3 linked regions of the Homo sapiens genome follow. The protein of the gene in region 2 interacts with the protein of the main gene of each other region in a biochemical or structural test. Each region holds a gene or a part of one and is shown on either strand. Other genes may lie near its edges.

The links.
Region 1: the proteins of BACE1 (region 2) and NCSTN form a complex in vitro, tested with the Homo sapiens proteins (one study listed by BioGRID).
Region 3: of the proteins of BACE1 (region 2) and USP8, one has a biochemical effect on the other in vitro, tested with the Homo sapiens proteins (one study listed by BioGRID).

The regions. Positions count from the first base shown.
Region 1 is NC_000001.11:160,342,863-160,353,427, reverse strand, and holds the start of NCSTN (nicastrin isoform 1 precursor), read right to left. Parts: upstream 10,046-10,565; 5' UTR 10,032-10,045; coding exon 9,947-10,031; intron 8,953-9,946; exon of another isoform or gene 8,839-8,952; coding exon of another isoform or gene 8,814-8,838; intron 8,707-8,813; coding exon 8,602-8,706; intron 4,430-8,601; coding exon 4,306-4,429; intron 3,880-4,305; coding exon 3,758-3,879; intron 3,324-3,757; coding exon 3,178-3,323; intron 2,207-3,177; coding exon 2,056-2,206; intron 1,733-2,055; coding exon 1,623-1,732; intron 1,375-1,622; coding exon 1,222-1,374; intron 542-1,221; coding exon 437-541; intron 269-436; coding exon 191-268; intron 106-190; coding exon of another isoform or gene 97-105; exon of another isoform or gene 1-96. Other genes in the region: COPA (coatomer subunit alpha), read left to right, coding at 10,258-10,297. UniProt on the Homo sapiens protein: Essential subunit of the gamma-secretase complex, an endoprotease complex that catalyzes the intramembrane cleavage of integral membrane proteins such as Notch receptors and APP (amyloid-beta precursor protein).
Region 2 is NC_000011.10:117,312,183-117,322,789, forward strand, and holds the start of BACE1 (beta-secretase 1 isoform A preproprotein), read right to left. Parts: upstream 4,075-10,607; 5' UTR 3,614-4,074; coding exon 3,353-3,613; intron 1-3,352. UniProt on the Homo sapiens protein: Responsible for the proteolytic processing of the amyloid precursor protein (APP).
Region 3 is NC_000015.10:50,474,521-50,485,085, reverse strand, and holds part of USP8 (ubiquitin carboxyl-terminal hydrolase 8), read right to left. Parts: intron 8,238-10,565; coding exon 8,093-8,237; intron 7,811-8,092; coding exon 7,587-7,810; intron 3,606-7,586; coding exon 3,021-3,605; intron 812-3,020; coding exon 725-811; intron 1-724. UniProt on the Homo sapiens protein: Hydrolase that can remove conjugated ubiquitin from proteins and therefore plays an important regulatory role at the level of protein turnover by preventing degradation. Converts both 'Lys-48' an 'Lys-63'-linked ubiquitin chains.

The sequences.
Region 1 (10,565 bases), on a different chromosome or scaffold from region 2:
AATGTCACTGAGTTCCTGATTCTTCCCAGCAGCAACAACAGCTGTGGTGTTCATCCTTTGGCCAACACCCAATCCAATCCTGTCTCTTACCCTGTCTCACAGGCCCTGGGGGTTGGTGGAAACAGGGCAGGGGTTGGGGTCTGGATTCTGAGCTGTAGGAATAGGAAATGAGGGGAGATGCTCAGGTTACCTGGTTCCGTACAGACTCATTTTTCTGAGAAACAGGATCTGTGTGCATCCAAAGCTCTAATGAAGTTCTTAAGGCCACCTGGGGGGAGGATGAAGAAACAACACTTAGAATCAGTCTCCTGTTCTGGGCCATGCCTAGGGGATAGAAGTCAAGGGAAGAGGCGGTGGTTCCTGCAGTTAAGACCGCAGAACAACAAAGGAGGAAGATTTAATTAAAAAGGAAGGGGCTGGGGGACATGCCACATACCTGTCCCAGCTCCACAAATGAGTCAACATTCTCTAACTGCACGGGAAACTTGCCCTTCTCCATATCGTAGACCATCCTCGAGCTGCCAATGTAGTCAAAAGTTTCCTGAGAGATGGAGGTAGGTGGGAGGGGGAACAGAGATTCCAAAGGGTTAGGAGAGCCTCGAAGGCGGCCAGATCATCAAAGCTGTAGGTAAGACGACTATCTCAGGTCACCTCAACTGCTAGTCAGCTTACAGTCATGTGACTTTCGGCTTCTCTTGGCCCCACCTCCCAGCTGTGACTATCCCTCATATGTATTACAAGACTTCTGAAGCCCAGAAATGGGGAAAGTAGCCTTAGTAAAGGTCTAAGATGAACATCAGCTATTATGTGTCTGATTCTTAACGGTCCCCCACCTCCAGTGACTCAGCCACAGATGCTGTTCCCTTATTCTGCTGTGGTCCTAGTGATGAGAGTCAGGAGCCTAACGGCTCCTGGATGGAGATAGCAGTAAAGGAGTCCAGAGAATAAAAGTAAAAGGCCGCCTCCAATATATCTTATCAGTGGGGGAAAGAGGGGGCTGGTTACATACCAATTCAGGGTGTAAAAGCTTCCTAAAAAGAAGGAATCTAAGCTTCCTAAAATGGAGGAATCTAAAGGGGAGACACATGTAGACACATCCAGAAGCTCTGTGCTGGTTAACAACTTAGGTCAAGTGCTGAGGTCTTCTCCAACCAGTAGCCACTCTCATCTTTACTATCCTCTTTCTTCCCTGCCATTGCACCCCAGCCAAAGAGCCCTTACCCCTTGAAAGAAGACAAACATGACATTGCGGGGCAGGGTGGTCACATCAGGTGCCTTTTGCAAAGCTTCAGCAGCAGCCAGCTGGGTGACAAAGGAAGCCACTGCGCTTTCAGCCCCTGGGGCCACATTCCAGAAAAAGGAACGACTATCCAGCTAGGTACAACAGAAGAAAAGTCAGGGGATATATACTTTAAAACTGGCCCCAAACCTCCTTTCTTGCTCCAGTCAAGAGAATATACCTGTCCTGTGGCAATGGAGACAACCCAGGAGTCCCACAGCCCAGATTCCTCCCCATTTGAGGCTTCCCAATTTAGCAACTTTGAAATCTGATATGCTAGAGCGGGGCCTACCAGCTCTTTTTGTGCCAGCCCTGCCCATCCTGATCAGAAGCCAACACTCACCCGGGTGGCAGCAACCACAACCCTGTCGTCAGGCTTTAATGTCCCAGTTGTATTTATAGGCTTTAGCATGCTCCACACATTGTAATCAGACAGGGGGTCACAGACGATTTCTAAGCAGGACACAAACAATGAGAGATCAACAAGGCTAAAGGAGAAGGTAGCTATAAAGGCAACATTGGAAATCTCTGACCAGTGCCCCACGGACTCTAAGTCGTTTTCTCTACTTCCAACAGTCCGAGGTTGGCTTCTCTGCCACTATCCACTTTAGGAACAAGCTGCCTAAATTTTTCAGAATTGTTTCTAGTTCTCCCATGCAGAGCTCCTTCATGGTGTCTACTCCTTCCCTATTACAGTCTCTCTAACATTCCCTGGCCTGGTTCCACTCTCCCTCTGCCCCTTATTCCATTACCCTCATGGTTCGGATCTGCCCTACCTGGGTTGATGCTGAAGGTGCTTTGGATGGAGCTGCGCCGCATGCAGGTGGCAGTGCTGATGACAGCATGCATGTGTGAAAAGAGCTGCATGGCACATAGTGGGAAGGTTGGTGCTGAGCCATTCTGACTCAGGTTGTGATCTTGATAGCACTGAAAGGGGAGATGGACCCCACTGAGACAGCTAGTTTGTGGAGGCCCTCCCTTACATCCCAGAAGGAGGAGGGCCCAGTTCCATCCTTTTGGGATGGAGCCACACCCTTTTCGGAGACATTTATCCCTGAGCTATAGTTATCCTAGAACCACCATAGGATCTATAAGGTCAAAGAAAAAAACTCATCAAGAGTTACAAAGGGTTGCAGACTCAGTGGTTTAGCTGGAGATGAAACTATCCCATTCCAGATGGCCTGGCCCAATTTGAAGCTTCAGCCACTGAAAAGATTCAGTGTGGTCTGATACAAAGAGCACCAAACTAGAGATAGGAAATCAGATATGACACAGCTTGGAGATCAACTCACCATACAACTTTGGACAAATCTCTTAACTACTCTATGAGTCAAAATGGAAATACTAGACCAGAATTAAGGCATATTAGAGCTAAAAAGAAGCTCAGAAATTACCAAATTGAATTTCTCAATCTCTAATCCAATGCTTTTTTTTTTAACGATACTAGTGGTTCTTAACCTGGGCTGTGTACCTTGTTTCATATTACTCTTTCAGATATTCTTTATATTTTCTTCTAGTCTAAAAGGCTTTAATGCTGTAATATCAGGTAGGAGCAAAATGTGGGGAAAGAATGTGAGAAGAACTAACGTCTTGGTTCTTTTTGGAGCAACCGTCTTTCAGCAGGTGTACCAGAAGAATGAGCCACCCTCCAAATAGGAGAGCCTATAAAATAATCCTTTTTTTTTTTTTTTTTTTGTGACACAGGGCCTTGCTCTGTCACCCAGGCTGGAGTGCAATGGTGCCATCTCAGCTCACTGAAACCTCTGCCTCCCGGCCTCAAGTGATCCTCCTGTCTCAGCCTCCCGGGTGGCTGGGACTACGTGCACACACCACCACACCTGGCTAGAAAAATAATCTTCTTTCTAACTGGAATTGCTAGGAGCTGGCAGTGTCATTACCTGCTTGATGACTTTGGTTTCATTTTCATCTTCAAGAAGAAAGATGGGGAAACTAAAGTCTTCATAAGCCAAACCATTGCCCAGCGAATTCCACTGTATTTCTCTGCAGTGAGCAAACTCTGGCCCATAGGAATTGGAGTAAACACCTGAAGGGAAGGATGGGGAATAGGGGGACTGGTTACTGGGACACCAAGTACTTAGGAACCAGGTGACGGCAGAAGAATCTTTCAGTTGGGACTAAGAGTTCAAAAGGAGGTGGTGACTCAAAGAAGTAGGCATGAAGTCTATTACCATCCACACTAAAATAGAAAGACAATGGTATCAGGGAGTCTTAGGCTGTAAGATTAGGGATGTGAACACGTGACAAAAAGAGATAATGCCAGGTAAGGCAAAGGAAGGGGAAGCAGGAGAGGGAAGGGATGAGCAGCAAAGACAAATAAACACTACCCCCTGTTTGGGAGTCAGTTACTGACACTACACACAGACACAAACACATATACATCCCTCACAAAGACGTAAGACCGAAGCAACAGTGAGCCTTAGGTGACAGTAGGCTCTCCTGATCCTTTGGGACACTTACCAAACCCATCATTTGGGCACTGTACACTAGGAGAGAAGCCTGAGGCAGGACTGGGCTTGGTCAAGGACACTGCAAGACCAGCAATTCGGCTGGTTCTCCCTTTCAGCTTCTCCATTAAATCCCTGGAATAGGAAAGGAATTCCATGAAGGAACACAGGAAGGTATCAGACAGCCTGACATTCTGCCTGCAGGATGGAAACAAATGGGGAACTAGGGGAATCAAACTGTTGACTTATTTCTTCCCTTTCAGTCTCTAAATTCTGAGTCTGGACAATGATCTGCTCTAAAAAGTAGAGCTTTAGTGAGTAAGGACCCCAGGGAGGGAGGGGAGGGATGCCCAGGGTTACTCAGGGACAGGTAGGTGAAATTTAGCCCTAAGCTCAAGATCATTTCTTTTGATGGTACACCTTTCCTTCTGAGGACCACCCTGCCCTCTCCCCTGACCAGACCAGGGCAGCCAAGGGAAGTTTTCACTAATAAGTGTGAGGACTGTTCACTGAAACTTTCCCTCTATGGATGTTTTCCCAGCAGATACATCTAGTTCTTACCTGGTAAAATGCTTGCTCTCCAGCAGAACCATGTAAGGGGGGTTGGGGCCATCAGTCAATACCCACTGTAGGTCCTCCTCTTTCTCTACTACGTGGATAACCCCTGTGTCTCCACTAATTGAAGCTGCCAGGACAGAATGAGTCAAATTAAAGCTCCCATAGTTAACAATTCTGACTTTGCCTCACTGATTCTGCGTATCTTTTATCCCCTAAAGATGTCACAACATATTTGGGTGAATACAGGCACCTCTAGATTTGAACTGAAAAGCTGTTGCCCCAGCTCCATCTGAAGGTTATCAGGAGGGAATGGAATATAAAAGAGCACAAGAGGACTCATTATATGCCAGAAAGGTTCTGTGAACTTCATTTTTTTGCCCTCTGCCCTCAACCTTATTTAGCCATATACATAAGATTCTACAACAATAGACACCAAAGTTTTCAAACCTATATTTTCTCTAGGAAATGCCACTAAATCTCTAGCTCAGGGTTTTAGCTTTGAATCTTCCTTTGTAAAAACACATGCATACATGCCCTTGGCCTCAGGAGCTTTCCTGGATCGTCATTCCTTTTGCCCTTTTTGGGAATGACTTTACTTGCTTCTGGCCGGTTTTAGATGAGGTTAGTCAAGAACTCTGAGGTTTCTAAAACAGAGCTTCCCAATTGATAAGCCTCGAATGGATCAGAGATGTGCTCTCATTGGTTCTCCTCATTCCAGGAAACCTAGGGTTTCCAAAGTCACCTCCAGCCAGGAGCCTACTTATCATTTACCCCAGGATGCCCTGAAAATATCACCCATTTCTCTATGTGCCAGGATGCTATACAAATAACATTTTCTATGTGTCTCATGACATGATAAAGATTGGGAAGCACTGTATTAGAGGATGGATGACCCAGAGTCCAGAATACTTTGAATTCTACATAATTCAAGGCATTAGGTAATACTCCTTAAGTCCCCAGTGATCTGTGTGGAGATATCCTAGGGTCTCCCTGTGAGTCTTCTCCCTACAGAAAATTGGATATGTTATTCATCAATTATTTTAGACCAGTAGTTCTCAGCCCTGGCTGTATATCAGCATCACTTTAAATGCCCACTCAGCCTCCCAAAGTGCTAGGGTTACAGGAGTGAGCCACCATGCCCGGCCCTTGCCACAGCATTTAAAACATGGGAAAAGGAACAGATAGTGTGGCAACTAAAACATATATAACTTCGGCCGGGCACAGTGGCTCATGCCTGTAATCCCAGTACTTTGGGAGGCCGAAGTGGGTGGGTGGATCACTTGAGGTCAGGAGTTTGAGACCAGCCTGGCCAACATGGCGAAACCCCATCTCTACTAAAAATACAAAAATTAGCCAAGTGTGATGGTGCACACCTGTAATGCTAGCTACTCAGAAGGCTGAGGCAGGAGAATTGCTTGAACCTGGGAGGCGGAGGCTGCAGTGAGCTGAGATTGTGCCACAGCACTCCAGCCTGGGTGACATAGTGAGACTCTGACACACACACACACACACCCCAAAACTTCAACTCCAGCGAGGACAGGAAGACAAACTATGATACTGGACTGAAAAAAACCTGGATTCTAATCTGGGTTCCAACTAGTAATGGTGTAGTCTTAAGTAACTTGCTTATTTTCTCTGCGCCTTCAATGAGGTTTTCTACCTCTATTCATCTCATACTGTGGGGACAGACGAAAGAAGGAAGAAAGGATAGAAGGAGGGAGGGAGGGAAAAGAAACCTATTTAAAGCCCCCTTTGAGAACTTTAAAGCGTCTAAGAGAAGCAGAGTATTATAATCAGAAATCAAATCTGGGTATCACTTTTTTCTCCTTAGTTTTATCATGTTAGCTACACTAATTAAAAAGGGCGGAGCCTGCTCAGAAAAGACAGATATGACGAAGTAAGATTTGGAAATAAGTAGGTTGAAAAGGAACCAAGATCTTAATGAGGAAGTGGCCACAGTCCCGCTTACCCCCTCTTGTTTCTCTGTACTGGCACGTGGCTTTACCTCTAGAGGCTTTGCTTCCTACAGAGCTGTTTTAAGAACATAGAGTAGAATGACTTATTCCCAAAGGAGTTTTCTTAGAGCCTAGTTACAAGAGGTTGGGGTCCTGGCCTTCTGTACTTTATAGTGAGGTTCCAGCAAGACCAGCAGTCTGATCTCAGCCCACCCTGGACCTAGCTCTCTTCTACCTACAAACCAGTTCAGAAACTAAGTCCAGAGGGCTGGGCATGGTGGCTCATGCCTGTAATCCCAGCACTTTGGGAGGCCAAGGCGGGCAGATCACGAGGTCAGGGGTTCGAGACCAGCCTGGCCAACATGGTGAAGCCCCGCCTCTACTAAAGATACAAAAAATTAGCTGGGCACGGTGGCACGCGCCTGTAATCCCAGCTATTCAAGAAGCTGAGACAGGAGAATTGCTTTAACCTGGGAGGAGGAAGTTGCAGTGAGCTGAGATTGTGCCATTGCACTCCAGCCTGGGCGAGAGGGCGAGACTGCATCTCAAAAAAAAAAAAAAGAAACTAAGTACAACAAAAACTTTATTTGGGGCTGTTTGGAACCAGTCAACCTACTCCCAGTGCTTTGTATAGCAGGGACATGGGACAATTAACAGATACTATAGCTCAGGGAAAGATGGCTAAAAAAGTAGTAACTGCTTCCACGAACAAGTCCTTCACTTCTCAGTGTCCCAGTTTTCTCTTATCAAATGGGAAGAAGGCTTCAGGAAATTATACAGCACTTTTGAGACCACCCTATTTACCTAGCGTCATCAATAAACAACTATTAAGAGGTATTTGACTTTCAGCTTTATGCAAGTACTCCAACCATTATTCCAGGGGTAAACTGAAATTCAGAGGTGATCAATTTGATGATGAAGAAGCCAGTATCAGACCCCAAGTTTCCTGCTTATCTGCAAAACTACATTCTGACAGAGCTATTGTCCATGGGAAACAAAATCTGAAGACAGCAGGTTAGCCTTTAGATTACTACTTTTCCTGCCCTATGATTTTGATAGTTTTTAAAGCCACAGTGTCATGGAACCTTCTTTTGGAACACACAAAGTGTGAAAATAAACGGCCTGTCAGTTGAATTTAAGGAAAAAAAGTTTTAAAAAAGGATAAATAGAATGCTTCACTAATTCCTCTTGCAATTATTCAGCATTTTCTTTTTTTTTTTTTTTTTTTTTTTCAGACAGTGTCTCACTCTGTCACCTATACTGGAGTATGGTGGCACAATCTCAGCTCACTGCAACCTCCGCCTCCTGGGCTCAAGGGATTCTTCTGCTTCCGCCTCCCGAGAAGCTAGGACTACAGGCATGCCATAGCAGCCAGCCGGCTAATTTTTGTATTTTTAGTAGAGATGGGGGGGTTTCACCATGCTGGCAGATTGGTCTCAAACTCCTGACCTCAAGTGATCCACCCGCCTTGACCTCCTGAAGTGCTGGGATTACAGGCATGTGCCACTGCGCCCAGCCTATTTGGCATTTTCAGTGCCTTCTCTTCAGATAGTTCATTGCCTTTAGCCCATTTTGGTTCCAAAAAGTTCAGAGTGCAAGTGATAACTGGACACCATAGAATATGAGACTTTTTTCTCCTTAAAAAACAGTATAATAGGGTGGTTAAGAGTGCTGGCTCGGCTGGGTGCGGTGGCTCACGCCTGTAATCCCAGCATTTTGGGAGGCCAAGGTGGGTGGATCACTTGAGGTCAAGAGTTCGAGACCAGCCTGGCCAACATGGTGAAACACCATCTCTACTAAAAATACAAAAATTAGCTGGGCATGGTGGCAGGTGCATGTAATCCCAGCTACTCAAGAGGCTGAGGCAGGAGAATCACTTGAACCTAGAAGGCAGAGGTCACCGTGAGCCGAGATCGTGCCATTGCACTCCAGCCTGGGGGACAAGAGTGAAACTCCGTGTCAAAAAAAAAAGGTCTCTCAGCTTAGTGCTCGGGCCACCAGATCCTGGCATCATCACTTATTACCAGTATGATCTTGGGAAAGTTACTCAACTTCTTTAAGTTTTAGTTTCATCATTTATAAAGTGACAATAACAGTAAGACCTATTTTGTGGGGTTGTGGTTGGGGTTGTATGAGATGCACATGTAAAAAGCTTGGTATGCAGCATTTACTAAATGTTAGTTCTTATTAATTATCTTGCCTAGCTTGACAGACGGTTATCTGTAACTGCCTACATACAGTCCAATATAAGTGTCAAATCTCCTAAGCAGGACATGGATGTTACTTAGTATCTAGGGCACAGACAAATATCAATGTCCACAAACATGAATCCATCTCAACTCACACTGGCAGCCAATCTGATGAGTGGCGTTGAGCAGGCGAACACAGGGAGCTGTTTTATTTAAGGGGATATATATCTTCCTCTCCACTGAGTTTCCCCTGCACAAACCTGATCGGAAGATAAAAAGTGTTAGAAAAATTTGAGAGACACAGGTACTAGCTTCTATCGTGTCATTAACCTGAAGTATGGCTTGGGTAAATCATTTAATATCATACTTTCTAAAATGAGATTAAAGTCCATTCTTCTGATTTCTTGGGCACACACTTATCGTAACAGATACATGTTCTACATGGCACCCAGCTATGTGCCTCAAAGGGTTATTACAAAGTCCATGTAGCGCCATTGACAGTGACACTAAAAGAGAGAAAACTTGGTCAAAGGAAAGGTGTTTGACCTTAGATTTGCCAGATTCTGGTTGCACAGGTGATCACACTTCTGCTTGTATATCCTGTATGTATATTACTAATTGGTTAATACACAGGTGCTGGGCTAAGAAAACTTTCTGAGGCATTTTTCCAAGAGTGTGAACAGAATTGAGAGAAACCTTATGACATACACGGGTCAGTTAATTTAACATCAGCAGGTCATTTGTGTGCCCACAGTGTGGGGCAGCTGTAGTTTCTCCTTTGAGGATCCTTAAAAACAATGTGAATTGGGGGAAGGCACAGTCATAGTTATATACAGGCATTTGCATTTTAGGGCTTGACCAACTAAAAAGCCATGTATCAGTAAATGAACGCGTATCAGCAAACACTTAAGTACATTATAAATGCCAAAAGTTCCTTGAATTGTTACTTCAGGGTCTTCACAGTTAAGAGTACCCATATCCTACCTTATTCTTGCTTTACTGATTAAAAAAAAAAAAAAAAAAAAAACCTGAGGCAAGGCAGGGGGACACAGACTTAGGATGTAATCAACAGAGGAAGAAATAAGAAATCCACCTTTTAAGCGCCGCACAGCACCCACAGAACAAGATTGCTTTCGTCTCAAAAAGTCTAAACGCGAGGAAGAAAGCTAACTTTCACACCTGTTCCTTTCGACTGTGGGGTGGGTGGCTGGGGTTGTGGGAAAAACGAGACATCTGGACAAAGTGGGAGAGGGTCAGGCTCGAAGTCCAGGAAGAGGCCTAGAGAAGGGAGTGAAGCGACACGACGTGCTGCGGGGGAGAAGGGACCTTCAGGTCCAGGCAAAGGGGGAACTTCTGTCGTGGGAACGAAAAAGAAAGAGGATTTACAGGGTGGGGGGACAGAGGGGCAGCAGGAACCAGAAGGGAGACAGTGGCGGTCGCGGCGGGGCCGATCCGAGAGTTCCCCTTAGAGAACGGAGCTCACGGGCGGGGAGGCCTCACCTGCTAGTAGGACGCAGAAAGACAGAAGGCGAAGGAGACCCCGACTTCCCGGGTCAGCCCCAGAGCCACCCCCTGCCGTAGCCATCTTGCCTCTCTGCTGAGCGGAAGCCCCCGTTCGGCTCCTGTCTGTTAGCGGCCTCTCTAGGCTACCACTGACACCGTCTCTGTGGCCCGGAGCCTAAGAGACCGGAAGTTCGTGTTTCCAGGCGCTTCCGGAAACCGCGGGAGAGGGTCGCTGACGTGGAGGCGTCCGAAGGGCAGCAGGGTGTGTCGGGGCTCGGATTAAGACATCGGAGTCGGAGACCTGAGAGATGTTAACCAAATTCGAGACCAAGAGCGCGCGGGTCAAAGGTAGTGGAGAATAAAAGGGGGAACATGGAGGTTGGATGTCAGGAGCGGCGCTGACACCGGGGAAGAGAAAATGGGTAGAGGTGTTGGTCGAAATGGGCCCACCAGACGGACCCGGAGGAAGACGGAGGGTGGGAGAGAGGTTGGGCCTGGCTAGCGGTTCTCCAGTCCCCTCTTCTTTGGTGTGTCCTTGGGCTTCGATTTACCTATAAAGTGGCTCCCACACTGCAGGGGATTCCTTAGACCCCCTCCCTATTCTTTCTTCCCCCTT
Region 2 (10,607 bases):
GCCCTAACATCCATAACTCATCCTCTCATTCACTGTGGACTCTCCCAATTTTAAGGGGGTAGGGTGGGAAGGAGCAGACATGGACATACGTGTAACGTGCAATTACAGTACAGTGGGATAGTATGGTGCCATCTGCCCCCTGGGAATAGCCTGCCACTCCTGTCCATCCTTCAAGACCATGCTCAGAGCACATGTCCCTGGTGCGGCTTTCCTGGATGAGTTTATCACTTTCTGAACACCTGTGGCACTCACTCTCTGCACTCCTATAAATACATTATTCTCTTTTCTTTTTTTTTTTGAGACGGAGTCTCGCTCTGTCACCCAGGCTGGAGTGCAATGGCGTGATCTCGGCTCACTGCAACCTCTGTCTCCTGGGTTCAAGCAATTCTCCTACCTCAGCCTCCCGAGTAGCTGGGATTATAGGCGCCTGCCACCATGCCCAGATAATTTTTGCATTTTTCGTAGAGATGGGGTTTCACCACGTTGGCCAGGCTGGTCGCGAACTCCTGACCTCAGGTGATCCGCCGGCCTCAGCCTCCCAAAGTGTTGGGATTACAGGCGTGAGCCACCGCGTCCAGCCATAAATGGTTCTCAAATTTGAGGCACAAACTACGGGGCCCCACTGTCAGAGATCCTGTCTCTAGAGGTCAGGGATGGGGCCAGGGAATTTACATTTTTAGCTGACTCCAATGAGGGTTTGCCGACCTCGCTTTGAGTATATCTGCATGGATGACCTTGTACTCGTCACTTCCGCCCTTTCACTTCCACTGTAACTCTATGTGGGCAGAAAACATGTCTTCTTGTCTCTTTGTGGATCAGCCCCCAGGCACCACCAATTAATTGCCTAGCACAGAGAAAGTGCTCCCCAAATTTTACTTTTTCTTGTTCAGAATACAATGCCATCCAAGTTCTCATTTGGCACTTACAACAGCCGCGCCAGGTAGGAAGAAAGGGCGTCCTTCTTACAGACAGATGGGGAGAGAGTCCAAGCCACCAGAGAGCAGAGACTGGCTGATGCAGGCTTAGTTAGAAATCATAGTGCAAGCCACACAGTTGCTTTAGTTGTGGGCTCCCTGGCACTAGCTTCCTGGACTGGTGTTGAACTTTAAGCCCACTTTCCTCTTCTAGAAAGGAACGAGGAAGGAACTGACATTTATTGAGCAATTACTCTCTGCTAAGTACTGGGCTGCAGGATGTATGCATTATTTCAGGGGATCAGGGAAGTACAGCAATGGATACCCCGTTTTTGTTTTTGTTTTTATTTTTTCTGAGACAGAGTTTTGCTCTTGTTGCCCAGGCTGGAGGGCAATGGTGCGATCTTGTCTCACTGCAACCTCCGCCTCCCAGGTTCAAGCGATTCTCCTGCCTCAGCCTCCTGAGTAGCTGGGATTACAGGTGCATGCCACCAGGCCCGGCGAATTATTTTTGTATTTTTAGTAGAAACAGGGTTTTGCTATGTTAGCCAAGCTGGTCTCGAACTCCTGACCTCAGGTGATCTGCCCACCTTGGCCCCCCAAAGTGCTGGGATTACAGGATACCCCAGTTTTATACATGTAAAACGTGGAGGCCCAGGACATCCGAGTTTTTATGCCTCATTGCATAGAATTGAAGAGGCAGAACAGGCCAGACAAGGATAAAGTGACTTCATATTTGTTGGAGGTCAGTTTTATATGCTGGTGTATTGTTCTGGGTGAAAGCACCTAGAACAATTAACCCTCACAACTTAATCCTCACAATTACCTTGCAAAGGAGGTCTCATTTCCTACTCATTTTAAAGATATGACAGTAGTTTCAGAGAGGTTATGCAATTTGCCCAAGGCCACACAGCTGAGAAGAGGAAAAGCTGTGGGTGGTAGAGCTGGGATTCGTGGACTGTCTGACCTCAAAGCTTGTGTGGGTTCTGCAGCCCCGTCCTGCATCGTGCCATGGGGTCCATGCACAGTGTGCACAGCATGTCAGTCGCAGAAACAGGAGTAGGTCCCAGGTCTCTGCATACCTGCTGCTCCCTGACGATATCATCTAGCGTTCTGTTTGCTCAGGGCCTGGATTTGGCTTCTGTCCTGCCCTCCCAAATTCCCACTGGAGACTACTGCTGGGGAAGTTATGGTGCACAGGAAAGAGGATGAGAAAGTGGGGAAGACCAGGCTTTCGACTAGCTGAGAGGTAGGGCTGGGGAGCACGCACCTAGGAAGGCTGGCTTCTGTAAAGTAATTGGGAGGTGGGGGTTTGTGTTTCTCCCAGATCCAGCTGTCTGAGAAGTTCAGGAAAGTGTGGCTGTCCCCTCCGCCCACCCCAAACACACTCCCACCTTCACAGACCCTCCCAAGGACAGACTTCCCAGACACAGATCCGGAGGTGGCTCACAGATGTGCAGGATCAGATTCAAGGTGACACGCACCAGCATACACAGAACCACAGGGCTGCCCGGGCCCGGACTGCCCCACAGAGGCGGCAGATGCACACAGAGGTCAGCCACAGCACCCCACATGGAGGGCTGCTCACCCACAGAGGTGCAGAGGGTGCCACCTCCACCAGCCACCTTGAAGGTACCTTGGAGATTGTCAGGAAGGATGGGGAGGGCATAACAGTGTTTTCTCTGTAACTCCCCTCTCCCCCGCCATGGAAGGAGTCCCACTCTTAAAAGGGAGCTCTGGCTCCTTTCCTACCATTTGTTCTTTCACCAGGCTCAGTTCAGTTCCCCTCTGGCCTGGGGAGGTGTGGGGTGGGGGAGGGGCCGGAGTGTAGACCGCGAGAGGGAGAAGGGGAGGAGGAGGGGACGGCAGGAGCCTGTCCAGGGCTTCCGGGCGGAGTGCAGTCAGGGGGGCCTCGACAACCTCACTTTGCCGTACCAGTGGCAGCCCAGATGGTGGGAGCAAGGTGCTTATTCAACTGCTGCCAGGATTCCTTGGTCCTGGAGGTACTGGGAACAATGGTGGGAATCAGAGGAGGGGACAAGGTTGGGTGGCCAACCTCTAGAGTGGTGGGATTTGGGAGACTCGGACTGGGCCACTGTCAGAGGGGGCTGACACCTGTTATAGTGCCCCTGTGGCGGACCCTTCCTCCAGGTCAGGGTCCCCAGCTGATGTGTCTGTCTTGCCTCAAATCCTTCCAGACGGCGTATGTGTCAGATGAGGAGCAAGGGGAACTAGGCAGCCAGGGGAGACGAGGAGGGAATGGGGAGCTTGGGAACACTTCTGCCAACAACCACGTGACCCCCGGGGAATGGCTGGGGAGGGGTCCCTCCTGCTGTCCCCACCAGCCCATTTGAGCAGGGGCTAGCTTGAGGCATCCCCATCCTGTCTCCCCTCTGCTCATGCAGGCGGAGGGCTAAGGGCTGGCCTGACCACCTTACCGTCTGCGGGGGGCTGCCCACGGTCATCTCCACGTAGTAGCCCTGCCCCGACTTGCCCCTCAGGTTGTCCACCATCTCCACAAAGCTGCCCCTCCGGCCGGGCTCCTCGGGCTCTTCGTCGGTCTCCCGGGGCAGCCGCAGCCCCAGGGGGGCGCCCCCCAGGCCGCTGCGCAGGGGCAGCCGGATGCCGTGCTGGGTGCCGTGGGCAGGCAGCACTCCCGCGCCCATCCACAGCAGGAGCCAGGGCAGGGCTTGGGCCATGGTGGGCCCCGGCCTTCGGGCCCTCTGGGCTCGCACTGGCCCACGTCCGTCCCTGGCGCCTGCCCCCAAGTCTGGGTGGTGCTGGTGGCTTCTCAGGAGAGGGAGCTTGGGGGCATCAGGACGCCAGGGCCTGCAGGGCCCTGGGCCAGCCCCCGGGTCCGGGCTGTGGAGAGCGGTCAGGGGAGATCCGCAGAGCACGGGAGCAGGGGAGAGGCTGGGATCCGGAGCCCGCTACATCGGCACGGCGGCGGCCAGCCTGGGCAGCGGGCGCGGGCTCCCGGCGGGGCTGGGAGGGGCGGGCATGGCGGGCCGGTGGCGGCTTCCCTGGTCCCCCCGGCGGGCGGCGGCGCGGGCAGGGGCAAGGGCTCCGGGCTCCTGCGGCTGCGTTGGCTGCTCAGGCCACCATAATCCAGCTCGCGGCTCGCAGCTCCCGGGCGGGCTGGGGAGGCGGAAAGACTTGTGGCGGCGGCTGTCAAAGCCAAAAGGTTTTCGCTTTTCCCTGGGATCGCTGGGAAGTGTAGTCTTCCCATGGCAGGCAATCCGGCTTCCGGGGCTGGAGAGGGGTCTGGGATGCCCTCTGCCGAGGTGGAGTCCGCCCTGCAAGGCCCTGGCGGGAAGGGCCAGACGGATGGAGAGGGGCACACCTCCCGTCTGTCAGTCTTTCTTTCAGCATGGAAGGAGCACCCACTGTATGCCAGGCACACTGCCAGGCGCTGGAGATACAGAGAGAAATAAACGGTGATTCTACACGGGACAGTTAAGTGATTCCTGCCGCGGTGGGGTTTCACACTATACGATGTGGCATTAAGGAGTAGGGATTTGGAGGGACATCTAGGGGATCTGGGAAGACTCAGTGGGAGAAGGTGGTATTTAATTTGAGCGTTTAAAAATGGGTAGGATTTTCACGAGCAGAGATTGAGGGAGCAGGATGAAAGGGGAGGAAGAGTTTTTCCAGGCTGCAAACCAGCGGAGCAGGGTCCAAAAGGGGAAAGTGCAGTTGTCTTATTTTCTCCTGCGCCTGCGATCTGCGGGCAGGTAAGAGCCAGTGGGTCTTCTCCCATCTGAACCTGTTTGTGCCCTTGAGGCTCTACTTGAATCCTTATGGCTCCTCTGATTTTCTGCACCATCAGCCAGACTGAGGAGAAATGGCTGTTGATAGCTTTAAAGTGTTAACACTCCGAAAAGTATCTCTATATTAACTGGTAAGAGCTTAAAGCCTTGAACCAAAAGCGTTAGAGTTCTAATAGCTTAAAGGAGAAAAGCCGGTATGGTTTTAACAATATATTGTTTATCAAATGTGGAAAGCCATTGATAAAATTCAGCAGTTACTCTGATTTAATTTTTTTAAAAAATGAAAGGGAATCTTCATTTTTCTTTTGAAAAGGAGACTTGCTCTGTCACCCAGGCTGGAGTGCAGTGGCATGGTCTCAAGTCTGCAACCTCCGCCTCCCGGGTTCAAGCAGTTCTCATGCCTCAGCCTCTGAGTAGCTGGGATTACAAGCATGCGCCACCATACCCAGCTAATTTTTGTATTTTTAGTAGAGATGGGATTTCACCATGTTGGCCAGGCTGGTCTCGAACTCCTGGCCTCAAGTGATCCGCCCACGTCGGCCTCCCAAAATGCTGGGATTATAGGCATGGACCACTGTACCCAGCCAGGAAACTTTTTAAACAAGATAACGACAACAACAACAAATGTAGTAATAACAGGCTACGTTACTCCCATTAAAGGCAGGCTTTGGAAAGGAAAGATCATTATCTCTACTCTTTTTTTTTTTTTTTTTGAGAAGGCGTCTCGCTTTGTCGCCCAGGCTGGAGTGCAGTGGTGGGATCTCAGCTCACTGCAAGCTCTGCCTCCCGGGTTCAGGCTATTCTCCTGCCTCAGCCTCCCGAATAGCTGGGACTACAGGCGCCTGCAACCACGCCCCGCTAATTTTTTGTATTTTTAGTAGAGACGGGGTTTCACCGTGTTAGCCAAGATGGTCTCGATCTCCTGACCTCGTGATCCTCCCGCCTCGGCCTCCCAAAGTGCTGGGATTACAGGCGTGAGCCACCGCGCCCGGCCGATCATTATCTCTACTCTTATCCTACACGGTTCAGACCGGTCTGATTGACTCAAAAGACAAGAAAATGGAAAAAGTGTTATATATGTTGGAAAGCAAAGGAATCATTAGTTGCAGATTATATGATATGGATAGAAAACCCTAATCAATAAGATGATTAGACACAAGTTAAAAAAATCGAAATCAAAATAGAGAAATGTATCTATGGGAATTGTAGATATGATAGAGATGGCATTCGTATTAGAGGAAAATGGACGCATTATTCAAAAACTGTTGTTGGGACGTCTGGCAGCCCATTTGGAAGGAAAAAAAACCAAATCCAATTTCATTCCTCTGAAAATAAACTCCAGATAGATTAAAGAATTTAACATTAAAATAAAACTACAGGAAAAATAGAATATTTTCATGATCTTATATTGAAGAAGACCTCCCTAACAAACCCTAGAAGGTAAACAAACCCAAAAACTGGATGGATTTGATGACTTAAATATTTAAAACTTCTGTAGAATCAGAAGTATTCCAATACCACCAGTGTTCTAATTCTGGTTCAATTAGTAACTGGGAGAGCCCACTCTGGTTACTTACTTTTTGAGTCCTTTTTTTTTTTTTTGAAACAGTCTCACTTTATCACCCAGGCTGGAGTGCAGTGGCTTCATCTCAGCTCACTGCAACCTCCTCCTCCTGGGTTCAAGCGATTCTTGTGCCTCAGCCTCCTGAGTAGCTGGGATTACAAGCGCACACCACCATGCCTGGCTAATTTTTTTTTTTTTTGAGACGGAGTCTCCCTCTGTCACCCAGGCTGGAATGCAGTGGCATGATCTCAGCTCACTGAAACCTCTGCCTCCTCAAGCGATTCTCCTGCCTCAGCCTCCCAAGTAGCTGGGACTACGGGCACGCGCCAGCACGCCCAGCTAATTTTTGTATTTTTAGTGGAGACGGGAATTCACCATGTTAGCCAGGCTGGTCTCTAACTCCTTACCTCAAGTTATCTGCCTGCCTCAGCCTCCCAAAGTGATGAGATTACAGGCGTGAGCCAACTTGCCTGGCCCCTTTTTGAGACTTGATTTTATCATTTGTAAAATGGAGATAATGATATTAATAGTTCAAACCTCAAAAGGTAAGAATTCGATGAGACAATCCATGTAAAGCATTTAGAATGGTGTCCAGCATATTGTAAGTGCTCAATAAAGGTCAGCTATTAGGATTATTACTGTTGCAACTACTGAGAAAACTGACATTTACAAAGTTAAAAGATCAGTCACAGATTAAGAAACAACATTTATCACACAATAGAGACAAAGGGCTAATGTTTATAATGTGCAAAGAGCTTCTACAAATCAATATAAATCCCAAACAACCTGATAGAAAAATGAACAAAGGGTAAGGGGAAAGAGTGAGGAAAAACAACAACAAAACACAAAAAAGAAAAGAAAAAGAAAAATGAACAAAGAATGTGAACAGTTAATTCACAGAGGAAATTCAAATGGATGATAAACATAAAAAACCTTGAAAAAAGCTTAACTTCGTTAATAGTTGAAAGAACACAAAGTAAAACAGTAGATTCTTTGTTCCTTTTTCTTTCTTTCGTCTCCTCTCAGATTGGTAACATTTGGTATTGGTGAAGGTATTGTTTGGACTGTAAATTATTCCATTTTTGGAGAGTAATTTGCAATGCCTATTAATATGTTAAAAATGCAAACTCTTTGGGCAATGGCATTTCTAGGACCCTTTCCAACAAAAACAACAATATTTCAGCAGTGTGTACTATGGCAAAACCTTGGATTCAAAACAAATGAAGCTGGGTGTGATAGTTCACGCCTGTAATCCAAGCCACTTGGGAGTCTGAGGTGGGAGGATCGCTTGTGGCCAGGAGTTCAAGACCAGCCTGGAGACAGAGCAAGACCCCATCTCTTTAAGCAAAACCAAAAATAATCATCAAGCCTGTAATCCTAGCACTTTGGGAGGCCGAGGTGGGTGGATCACCTGAGGTCAGGAGTTTGAGACCAGCCTGGCCAACATGGTGAAATCCTGTCTCTACTAAAAATACAAAAAAATTAGCCAGGCATGGTGGTGGGTGCCCATAATCACAGCTACTTGGGAGGCTGAGGCAGGAGAATCGCTTGAACCCGGGAGGTGGAGGTTGCAGTGAGCCGAGATTGCACCACTGCACTCCAGCCTGGGTGACAGAGCAAGACTGTCTCAAAAAAAAAAATTTAGCTAGGTGTGATGGCACATGCCTGTAATCCCAGCTACTTGGGAGGTTGAGGCAGGAGAATCGCTTGAACCTGGGAGATAGAGGTTGCAGTGAGCCGAGATTGCGCCACTGCCCTCCAGTCGGGTGACAGTGAGAATCGGTCTCAAAAAAAAAAAAAAAATTAAATAGGGAACAAGACATTTGTTCAATGAAATCCTAAGTAACCATTAAAAACAATGGGATAGCTTCTTATAAACTGGCCTTCCAGGCTGGAGTGCAGTGGCACAGTCTTGGCTCACTAAAACCTCCACCTCCCAGGTTCAAGCAATTCTCTGCCTCAGCCTCCTGAGTAGCTGGGATTACAGGCGTGTGCCACCATGTCTGGCTAATTTTTGTATTTTTAGTAGAGATGGGGTTTTGCCATGTTGGCCAGCCTGGCTAATTTTTGTGTTTTTAGTAGAGATGGGGTTTCACCACGTTGGGCAATTCTCTGCCTCAGCCTCCTGAGTAGCTGGGATTACAGGCGTGTGCCACCATGTCTGGCTAATTTTTGTATTTTTAGTAGAGATGGGGTTTTGCCATGTTGGCCAGCCTGGCTAATTTTTGTGTTTTTAGTAGAGATGGGGTTTCACCACGTTGGCCAGACTGGTCTCGAACTCCTGACCTCGTGATCCACCTGCCTCGGCCTCCCAAAGTGCTGGGATTACAGGTGTGAGCCACCGCGCCCGGCCTGTTTATGACAAGTTAAAGAAAGCATGTCAGGGGCCTGACGTGGTGGCTCACACCTGGAATCCCAGCACTTTGGGAGGCCAAGGCGCGTGAATCAGGAGTTCAGGGCCAACCTGGCCAAGATGGTGAAACCCTGTCTCTACTAAAAATACAAAAATTAGCTGGGCGTGGTGGCGGATGCCTGGAATCCCAGTTACTCGGGAGGCTGAGGCAGAGAATTGTTTGAACCCGGGAGGCGGAGGTTGCAGTGAGCCAAGATCATGCCAATGCACTGTAGCCTGGGTGACAGAGTGAGACTACGTATCAAAAAAAAAAAAAAAGCACATGTTAGAACAATAACATTATGATCTCATTTCTGTAAAAATTAAAAAGAATGGGCTGTGCATATATGCATAAATATGTAGGTATATACATTTACATCTGCATAAGCATAAAAAAATATGGAAGATAGCACCCACAGTGTCAACAGTGGTTTCCTTTGAAGTGTAGGGTTTAATTTCTTCCTTAGTTTGCTCATTCATTCATTCAGTAAATGTACACTGAGTGCCTACTACACGCTAAGCACTATTTTAGGCACTGAGGATACAATGATATGTAAAATCCCTGTCCTCATGGAGCTTACACTCTAATGCAGGAAGACAGACAGTAAAGAAATAAAATTATAGTATCTTGGATGGTGATATGTGCTATAGAGAAAAATAAAATAGAGAAAGGAGATGGGAGGGCGGTTTGCAGTTTCAAATAAAGTGGATTGAAAGTGTAGAGGGAACATTTTATATCTTTGTATCCTTAAATAATTGGTAGGATTATCAAGTGTTTTCCTTTCTTATCATGTGAGTAGTTTTCTGTATAGCCCAAATAAACAGTATAAAAAAGAGAATAAAAAGTTATTTTTTTCCCAGAATTAAAATGCTTGTTTATTTATTTGTATTTAGAGATGGGGTCTTGCTCTGTCACTCAGGCTGCAGTGCAGTGGCATGATCATGGCTCACTACAGCCTTGACCTCCTGTGCTCAAGTGACCCTTCCACATCAGCCTCTGTAGATGAGACTACAGGTACACACCATCAAGCCTGGTTAAATTTTTGGGTTTTTTTTTAAGAGATTGGGTCTCACTATATTGCCCAGGCTGGTCTTGAACTCCAGGCCTCAAAGGATCTTCCTGCCCCGGCCTCTCAAAGTGTTGGGATTACAGATGTGAGCCATTGCTCTCGGCTGTTACTGTTTTTTGATTAACATTTAATTGTACATGTTTATGGAGTACAATTTGATATTTTGATACATATATATGTTGCATAATGATCACATCAGGATATTTAGCATGACCACCACTTTATTTATTTATTTATTTTTGAGGTGGAGTCTCGCTCTGTTGCCCAGGTTGGAGTACAGTGGCGTGATCTTGGCTCACTACAACCTCCACCTCCCAGGTTCAAGGGATTCTCCGGCCTCAGCCTCCTGAGTAGCTGGGACTACAGGCGTGTACCACCATGCCCGGCTAATTTTTTGTATTTTTAGTAGAGATGGGGTTTCACCATGTTAGCCAGGATGGTCTCGATCTCCTGACCTCATGATCCGCCCGCCTCGACCTCCCAAATGCTGGATTTATAGGCGTGAGCCACCGCGCCCGGCCCACATTATGCATTTATAATTTCTTTGTGGTAAGGACATTCAAAAGTCTCTCTTCTAGCTATTTTGAAATATACCGTATCAGTGTTACTGTTAACCATTGTCACCCTACTGTGCAATAGGATACCAGAATTTATTCCTCCTTTTCCTTTTTCTTTTTTTTTGAGACAGAGTTTTACTCTTGTTGCCCAAGCTGGAGTGCATGGCACGATCTTGGCTCACTGAAACCTCTGCCTCCCGGGTGCAAGTGATTCTCCTGCTTCAGCCTCCCAAGTAGCTGAGATTATAGGCATGTGTCACCACGCCTGGCATATTTTGTGTTTATATATATATATGTATATAGATAGATTTTTTTTTTTTTTTTTTTTTTTTTTGGAGAT
Region 3 (10,565 bases), on a different chromosome or scaffold from region 2:
TAGTGATACTAAGTATATTGCTGTGCCAACAATCTCCAGAACTCTTTTCATCTTGTAAAACTGAAACTCTGTACCTACTGAACAATAACTCCCCATTTCCCCTTTCTCCAGCTCTGACAACCACCATTCTACTTTCTGTCTCTATACATTTGCCTACTTTACAAACCTCATAGAAATGGAATCATTCAGTATTTATCCTGAAACTGGCTTATTTCACTTAGCAAATGACCTCAAGATTCATCCATGTTGTAACGTGTCAGAATTTCTTTCCTTTTTAAGGCTGAATAATATTCCATTACATGTACATACCATATTTGTTTATGCATTCACCTGCTGATGGACATTTGGGTTGCTTCCATTTTTTGGCTATTATGAATAATACTCTAAGAACATGGGTGTACAAATACTTCTTGTTTGCAATTCTTTTGGGTATATACCCTGAAGTAGAATTGCTGGATCATATGGTAAGGCCTAAACATTTTTTACTTTCATAAAATAAATAGAATACGCTGTCACACTTTAAACAGGAAGACAAACTATTTCCTTTAGCATATAAATGGATTGATCATGCAAAAACAAGCAAAACACCAGCTACCAAAGATGGCAACGATCCCCTTACACTGTAGATCTCATGATAAAAGATAGCAGTGTGGTAAGATAATCACATAGTTATAATCCATGTTTGGCTTTTTTTTCCAGTTTTTTCCTGCAATAAACTACTTACTTTATTTCTTTCGGTATCGTCTGTATCCTCTCTAAAAGTTCCTGTCCTTAGAATTCCACTTTCTGGTTGTCCTTTAATCTTAAATGGCTGTAAAATTATTAAAATTACAGAAGTGAAAGAAAACTTTAATTCTCCTCCCAACATAAAGCTACTAGCTAACACAACCGAATCTATGAGAATGAAAATGTAAAAGGAGAAAAAAAAGGCCTCTGAAAATTTTATTATATTTTACTGTCACATTCAAAATACTTAAAAAACTAAAGAACTCTGATGAATCAGTGAAGAAAAAAAAAAGATGAAAATCAAAGTGGACTGTGAAGCACTGGTTCACACTACATGGCCAAGTATAAAATGCTGATCATTAATGTATATTCACCATGACCTAATTTGAACATTATTCTTTTATTTAAATACTATTACGATTTTGGTTATCTTGAAAGGAGTTGTGCTTCAAAAAATTTGAAGTATTCAAGAGAAAGAAGAAATTAAGATACAGACCAATAGTAAAAAATGCAAAAATCTATATTCATATCTTCTTATAACATCACAGATTCTTTTTTTTTTTTTGGAGACCGAGTCTCGCTCTGTCACCCAGGCTGGAGTGCAGTGGCACGATCTTGGCTCACTGCAACCTCTGCCTCATGGGTTCAAGTGATTCTCCTGCTTCAGCCTCCCAAGCAGCTGGGACTACAGGCGCCCGCCACCACACCTGGCTAATTTTTTATATTTTTAGTGGAGACAGGGTTTTACCGTGTTAGCCAGGATCATCTTGATCTCCTGACCAAGTGATCCGCTCGTCTAGGCCTCCCAAAGTGCTGGGATTATAGGCGTGGGCCAACGCGCCCGGCCCGTAGATTCTTTTTAAAAACTCATTTTTGTTTTATATCTTATTTTAAAATAACTCTACTAAAAACTTTTTAAAATTAGTGATAATTTTAACAAAATTTATTCTAGAATAAATTACATATTTCTCCTACTTTTAAAAGGAGCACACAAAGAATGCAATCTTAGATGTGTAGGAATATTTGGCACCTATATACTAAATGACTCCACAAATATGAATGATTTAAGTTCTAAAGACTGCATGCCTCTAGTATAGCAAGATGGAAAAGAAGTGGCTTTGGAATCTCACTGTCTATGTGATCCTAGGCAAATACTTAACCTCTAAACTTCAGTTTCACTTGTAAATTAAATACCTTATGGGGTTATCATTAGGGGTAAATAAGACAATGCAGTGAAAATACTTGGCATATAGTAGCTACTCAATGAATAATACTTAAATTGTATCTTGGAGTGCACATGTTTTGCTCCTCCTGTGAATAAAATTAGAGAGTTTTAGTACATGGGCTTCATATCCCCAATTTGGGGTGTTTAGAAGGTTTTTGGATGGAAGCTATCTTTTTTAATAGCAGAGGTTACCAGATAAGTGTTCCCTGGATAAGAGCAGCTTGACTATGAATTAATTTTGGTAACATGCCTGAATTGTGTTTGAGAAGTATAGAAATTGACATTCTGTAAAGATGGTATCCCGCCTTCCATTAGAAGTCATTTCCACACTACTAAAAATGTTTTTTCCATTTATACATATGTAAAAAGGACCATAACTGTTCTTGGTATTATAAACATATACTTGGTGTTCAAAAGGAAAAGGCATTGTTAATGACATAATGAAGAAAAAAAGAAAAGCATAGCATTATTAGAGATTGAAAAAGAATAACAAAAAAAGTCCCCTAAAATTACGGCTATCAATTTTGGGTGTGTAGCCAAGGGCAAAATTAATTGGGTTATTTGCCAATATTATTTAAATAGATAAAGCAAGAAACAAAATGACACCGATCTGACCAAAAAATCACTATATGCAAAGATAAATGTTAGGCCATTTAGATGTCACTGATTTTGGATATATTCTAAACAGATATAAATTCTATCATACAAATATTAGCATCTAGTTTCCCCATACTGAGAAGGAGATTATATTTCACTCTAGTCTTCCCATGATCATACATCAAACATAAAAATGAAGAATGTAGCTATTTATCTCAATTATTTGAAATATATTGCATTTTATAGATGTAATATACAAAAAGCAATTTCATTCCCAACCAATCATTTCATAAATGTATGGCACTGGCCTCAAAGGAGAATAGATGAGCAAATGTGGATAGATCAGTACATTCTATCACCCCTGAAAAGACTATTTGAAATGCCTGCCCTTTTATGGAATGCCACTGGTGTTTTCACATTTTCATATACATTTTCTTTCACTTCGTTGGCAATTTGTACTGTTTCTGCTTACCTTGCCTGAACCTGAATCCCCTGTCACAGATGTATGGGGCACATCTCCTGTTGACTTTTTCTGTATTTCTGGGGTTGGACACCTTTTCCCCCTATCTTCTACAGATTTCTTGGCATCAGAAGTTTCATGTTCACTTTTACTTTGTCTTTTTACTCCTGTTATTTCTTTGCCCCTCTTTGCTGAGGTTTCTTTATCTTCTTTCTTGGCCTGTTCACTTTCTTTCTTCTCCATTTCTTCTTTTGCTTTTTGTTGCTTCTCTGTAATTTCATTTTCTTCAGCTTCTTGTTTCTTTTTGGCTTTTTGTTCTTGTTCTTCCTTCCTCAGTTTCTCTTTCTGTTCCTCTTGCTGCCTTTCCCGAAGTTCTTTTTCTTGTTTGTTTTTTTCCATTAGAAGAGCAGTTTCTGCATGAATACGAGCCTTTTCTTCATCTGTTAACATGAGAGTTGGAGAAAAAACTACTGGCTTGGTGGAACGATCAGGAATAACTTTTCCACTCTGAGGAGATTGTTGCTCATGGTTTGTACTTTCAGATTTTATTCTATGCTCTTCAGGCAATTTGACTGCTGGTTTTTTAGTACGATCAATCTAGAGCAACAAAACCAGAGCAAAACATTTTTGTCAAAAATCAGGAAATAACCTCAGTTCTTGAGATCAAGTTGTGATAAAAGAAGTGTCACTTTGTGGAGACAACATCTATCAGCACATCTATTTGTTAATTACTCAGTGTCAAGATTTCTCATAAAACAGAACTTGAATGGTAGATATTCAAACATCACTGGAACTTACATCCTCTTGATTCAACACTTTCAATTCTTCCTGAGTGTTTTGTATACAAAAGAGTTAAAAATGTCTTTATTCTAAAACATAAAACCTAGACCTGGGCATACTTAGACTTAAGTTCCACTTCCAGGTATCCAAATGCCTACCCAATATTTCCATTTGAGTGTCAACACATGTATCTCAAACCCCATACAGCCAAAACGGATTCACGATTCCCCCCACCCCGACAAACATGGTCCTAATCTCATGGATGTAACCACTCTCACTCTCCCAATAGTTGCACAAATCAAAAACCTGAGTCCCATGATATGTTCTTCCCATATCCTTCTGCACGCTGTTAATTTTCCTCCTATATCTGTCCCTCCATCTCTTCTACCACAGGCTAAGACCATGTCAACCTCCTCTCTCACCAGGACTACAGCATAGCTTTCAACTAGTTGCCCATCTCTTCTCTTGCCCCCGCCCCCCAATCTGTTTCTCCACATTATAGCCAGAGGACTCATTTTAAAACAAATTTGATTTGCTACCCACTATGCTCTCAGTACACCTAAAATCTTTACCATAGTCTGTAATGCCCTGTATGGTCTTACATCTGCCTACCTCTCCAGTCATATGGCTGTGTATACCAGCTATACTTGCCTTAAAAAAAAAATTATTCCAAGATGCCATGCTCCTTCCCAACTTAGGTCTATCAGCTGTTCATCTAGATAATGCCCACATTAGGTCTTGGCTTACACATCTCTCCCTCTGAAAAGACTTCCCTGGTTCCTAGAACTAGCCAAGTCCCCTGATACATGCTCTTATAATACTTTATTCTTCTCTACCGGAATTCTGATCAAATAACTATAATTACTTATTTAAAATTTTTCTTCCCTCCTAGAATATAAGCTCTAAAAGGATAAAGACTGTGCCTGGCACAGTTAGTAACTATGTTACTGAGGGAACAAATGCAATCTTCCCTAAAAACTTTTACATGAGGTAAAATACTAACTAGTTTCCTTCAGGTTGTGTAATAAACTACCTAAGTTCCTGATTTAATGAGTTAAATGTTTATTACCTCAATTTAACAGCATGTTAACACTAGAGAAGTGACCCTAACATCATTTCTTGAGAATACTGTGTACTGAAAGAAAAATAAAAACTTATAAGAACATGTGCCAATAACAATCTACATAGTGTTCTTACAAAACGAATTTATGTTTTTCTACTAGAAAATAAAAGAAGTTGCCAGGCGCAGTGACTCACGCCTGTAATACCAGCACTTTGGGAGGCCGAGCCGGATAGATCACTTGAGGCCAGGAGTTCGAGACCAGCCTGGGCAACATGGCAAAACCCCATCTCTACAAAAAAAATACAAAAATTAGCTGGGCGTGGTGGCATGTGCCTATAATCCCAGCTACTCAGGAGGCTGAGGTGGGAGGATTGCTTGAACCCAGGAAGTCGAGGCTGCAGTGAGCTGTGATCACGCCACTGCACTCCAGCCTGGGTGAGAGAGTGAGACCGTTTTCAAAAAAAAAAGAAAAGAAAAAGAAAACGAGGTTAGTGTAGAAAAAATAATTTTTTTCCTGTTCACTTCTCTTTCTGCCTCTTAAAAAAAATCCTTTGTCTTTTTTTTTGCATGTATTTGAGAATAAAGTAGGAAGAACCACTATGGGGATGAGGTTAACAATAAGAGGTGGAACAGAAACAAAAATAAATGTTGTTTCCATTTACATTTTGGTGGCTTGATCTATTTTTCCCTAATTTTAAAAGTATAGTTATGATCATGTTACTCTCAAGTTTAAAATTCTTTAATGGTTCCTTGTGCCTACAGGACAAAATTCAAATTTGATCCAAGTCTCTCTTGATGACTCTTGTCCATCCTTCTAATCTTATCTACTATCATAACTTCCTCTCTCCAACAGAGACTAGCGCCCACATATGCCAAAACTGTTCACTGGCCCCAGAGCATGCCCTATGCCTTTGGTCATAGAATTTTCTACTTGTTTCTTCTATCCTCCAATCCTACTCTTAAAGCCCAGATAAAATACTGTCTCCTCCATGAAGACGTCCTTGATCTTCTCAGCTAGAATATTCTCCTTGCTCTGTGCTCCAGTGCCTTGTAGAGCAATTATGATATTCTGCCTTATGCTGTGGCTGATTTTATACAGATCTCTCCTTCCAAACATCAGAAGAACCCATCTCTTGTATATACAAACTTTCATGCTGTCTTATTTTTATTTTTATTTTTTTTTGAGACAGAGTCTCACTCTCACCCAGGCTGGAGTGCAGTGGCCTGATCTCGGCTCACTACAACTCTGCTTCCTGGGTTCATGTGATTCTCCTGCCTCAGCCTCCTGAGTAGCTGGGACTGCAGGCACGCACCACCACGCCTGGCTAATTTTGGTATTTTCAGTAGAGATGGGGTTTCACCATGTTGACCAGGCTGGTCTGGAACTCCTGACCTCAGGTGACCCACCTGCCTCCGCCTCCTAAAGTGTTGGGATTACAGGCACGAGCCATGGCACCCAGCCCTCATGCTGTTTTTTATATAGAAGATCTTCAAAATATGTCTGAAAATTGTACGTATCTCATAAAGTTATGTTGGGACACAAAAGGATTAGCGTTTAAATAGATTAAGTTGAAAGGAAATGCAATAACATAGAGAAGCTCTTTTTAGACTTTCCTAAATTCACCCTTTAAGAAAAGTTGTTTAATCACATCTATTTAGTCTGCAATTTATTCTGCAATACTAAAAGACCTTAAAAAAATGAAGAAATGAACCACTTCAGTTTATAACAAAAAATTACCAGATTTTCTATTCAATACCTGCTCCACAAATCAAACGTCATCCACTTTAAATGTGAAATACTGTTTTAAATATATCTGGGGAAAAAATTAAAAATGAATGCTAAAAAATGTTATTGGGAAATGCATGGAGGGGGAACATTAGTTAACCTTTCTTTAAATAAAGCCAAATGAAGGATATAAAAACTAAAATTTTTTTATTTGTAATGTCTTGGTTATTTAAAAACTTTTACATGATTATTGTTAAACATGCCTGTTATTTGCGTGTCAAATTCTAAGGAAATGAAACTAAAGCACTGTTTTAAAACCAAAATACTGACATCACATACCTATCATATGTAAGCCAAGCTATTTATGAAAATAATATGGGTCAAATTATAATACAAAAAATCCCAAAAGGGCTATTCTAATTCACTGTGATAATGCAATCTTTCATTGGCATTGTTTGTAGCAAATGGATCGCCAACTGGCTTGGAAACCCCTTAATTATCTACTCTAATATAGGCGTGGCGGTAATGCTGAATTATGATGAAAAATTTTTAAACAAAAAATTTATCAAAACATACAGACTGTTCTCATCGATACTTTTTTCTAAGATGTTAAAGGTTATATATTAAACTTCGTTTCTATACTATGTATTTAATTCTTTTTTTTTTTTTTGAGACAGAGTCTTGCTGTCACCCAGGCTGGGGTGCAGTGGTGCAATCTCGACTCACTGCAACCTCCGCTTCCTGGGTTCAGACAATTCTCATGCCTCAGCCTCCCAAACAGCTGGATTTATAGGCACCCACCACCATGCCCAGCTAATTTTTGTATTATTAGTAGAGAGGGGGGTTTCACCATGTTGGCCAGGTTGGTCTCAAACTCCTGACCTCAGGTGATCTGCCCCTCTCAGCCTCCCAAAGTGCTGGGATTACAGGCGTGAGGCACTGTGCCCAGCTATACTATATATTTAATATTAAAACAAAAGCGAGAATAATGTTAAAATCAAGAACATACCTGTGGAACATTCTTTATACTAGGCACTGGCTGAATTATGGGTGAAACATCAGATTTAGAAGCAGCAACTGGTTCAACTGGAGTTGATATATTCAGTGGTCCCATTCTCTCATTTTGACCACTTATCAATTCTATATTTTCATCTACTTCTATAGATGCAGGTGGCGTCTGGGCAGCAGGTTTAGAAGGAATTGATTCTTCCAATGAGGGATAAGTAAAATCCACTAAAATTCCAAAAATAAAAATGTTTTTTAGAATAGCAAACCCCATACACAGTACTTACATTTCTCATGCGTGTTAATGCAGTAATTAAATGTAAACTAAGTGAAAAAACAATTACAACAGTCTTAAAGAAAATGTGAACTTCCAGGCTTATATTTTTATGCCTGAAAACAAACTGCTCTCTAATAGGACAAATACACACACAACCAAGAATGTTACCGGGAAAACAATTTTAAACCATATTTTACCAAAGCAATTTTAAACAAAAATTTTCACATACATACATGAGATAGACACCTCTTCATTCTGGCGTCGTGGGGGTGGAGTGACCTTAGCATTTGTTGTATACTGGGGATAACAAAGGAGCCAGTTTTCATAGCCTCCCTCTAAAACCAAAGGCTCATTGCGCAGGACAGTTTTACTTTCCCACTATAAATAAGGAAATCATATTTTAAATAGGGCAGCAATCTTTCAACAGCTAAAAACACAACAAATCTAAATTTTAAAGTTGTTCCCTTAAGGACAAAATTTATCTTCTAAATAATGACAAAATGAGAACTGAATTCAAAATTCAACATTAAATGAAATGGTTATATAGGTGAGGTTTTAAAAACCATACAAATAATCAATGATCTTAGAAGAAAAATTAGAAAATAAATTACTAAATATAAAACAAAAATGACCCATAACCTCACCACCCCAATACCACTTTACATTCTGGAGTTTACTCTTATAGAGAGTTTTCAATAAAACCTTTATGATGTTGCTTTTCTATGAACATCTTTCATCACTATAGAGCTATATCATCATTTGCAATGCTAGGTAATATTCGACTACTGGTTGACTGATTGACAAGGTCTCACTCTATCACCCAAGTTGGAATGCAACGGCATAATCACGACTCACTGCAGCCTTGACCTCTTGGGCTCTATTGATCCTCCCACCTCAGCCTTCCCAGTAGCTGGGACTTACAAGCACGCGCCAACACGGCCAGCTAATTTTTGTACTTTTCGTGAGCTGGGGTTTCGCCATGTTGCCCAGGCTGGTCTCGAACTCCTGGGCTTAAGTGATCGACCTGGCTCAGCCCAAAGTGCTGGGATTTATAGGCGTGAGCCGCTGCACATGGCCTATTCTACTTTATACACAGACCCCAAAACTGAGTCAATCGTTTGAACATTTGGGTTTTTTCCCCATTTAATTATAAGCAATGCTGAAATAAACACAAAAGATCCTTATACATGCACATACCTAGTCACCTCCTTAAGGAAAACTCCCAGAAAGGGAGTTGCTTAAGCTAAGGTACACGAACATTTTAAGGTTTTCAATATATTGCTAATCTTAGAAATGATCACTTAAAAATATATATAAATATATTGGTCGGGCACGGTGGCTCATGCCTGTAATCCCAGCACTTTGGAAGGCCGAGGCGGGAGGATCACCTGAGGTCAGGAGTTCGAGACCAGCCTGACCAACATGGTGAAACCCCGTCTCTACTAAACATACAAAAATTAGCCAGGCGTGGTGGCAGGCGCCTATAATCCCAGCTACTTGGGAGGCTGAGGCAAGAGAATCGCTTGAACCCGAGAGGCGGAGGTTGCAGTGAGCCAAGATAGCGCCACTGCACTCCAGCCTGGGGGATAAGAGTGAGACTTCATCTCGAAAAATAAATAAGTAAATAAATATATATATATGTGTGTGTGTACATATATGTGTGTGTATATATACATGTATATATATGTATTTCTTTAGGATAATTACCTAGGAGTAGAATTGCTGGTTTAATATGATGCCCAGTTGCCCTTCAGAAAGGCTATACCAATTTATACACTTAACCAACAGGATATGAGAATGCCCATTATACATCTTTATAATTTTTACAAAACTGATGAACATAAAATGGTATCTTGTTTTAATAAGCATTTCTTTATTGGTGAAGTTGGACATTTTTTCATTTATTTACTATGGATTTATATTGTTCTATGACTTAACTATTTAATAATTGTATCCTTTGCCCCTTTTTCTATAGTTATTTGCAATTTTTTTAGTAAACAGTGAATGTACTCTGAATATTAGGGAAAACAGGTCTTTGTCATATATATTGCAAACATTTTTCCTGATTTTTACTTTATGTTTTTGTTTTTTAAACATAGTTAAATGTCTTTTCTTTTTGAGATGGACTTTTGTTCTTTTGCCCAGGCTGGAGTGAAGTGGTGCGATCTCGGCTCATTGCAACCTCTGCCCACTGGGTTCCAGCAATTCTCCTGCCTCAGCCTCCTCAGTACCTGGGATCACAGGCGCCCGCCATCATGCCCGGCAAATTTTTGTAATTTTAGTAGAGATGGGGTTTCGCCATGTTGGCCAGGCTGGTCTCCAACTTCTGACCTCAAGTGATCCACCTGCCTCAGCCTCCCAAAGTGCTGGGATCACAGGTGTGAGCCACCGCGGCCAGCCATAAACACAGTCTTCATTTTCCTTTATGACATCTTGATTTGACATCAAGGTACTAAAAAATACCAATGCTTTCTCCTAATAGTTCGCTGTTTCAATCTATACATTTATATCGTCTATTCATTTGAGATGTAGCTTGGTCTAAGAAATAAGGTAGGGATCCATTCTCTTTTATTTACTGGCTGGGCAGTTGTCCCCAAACCATTCATTTCAATCCATCTTTTCTTCATTGATTTATGTCACCTTTATCATACACTAATCATTCACATATCTTAGTTTGAACTTTATGAAACTGCCAAACTGCCATTT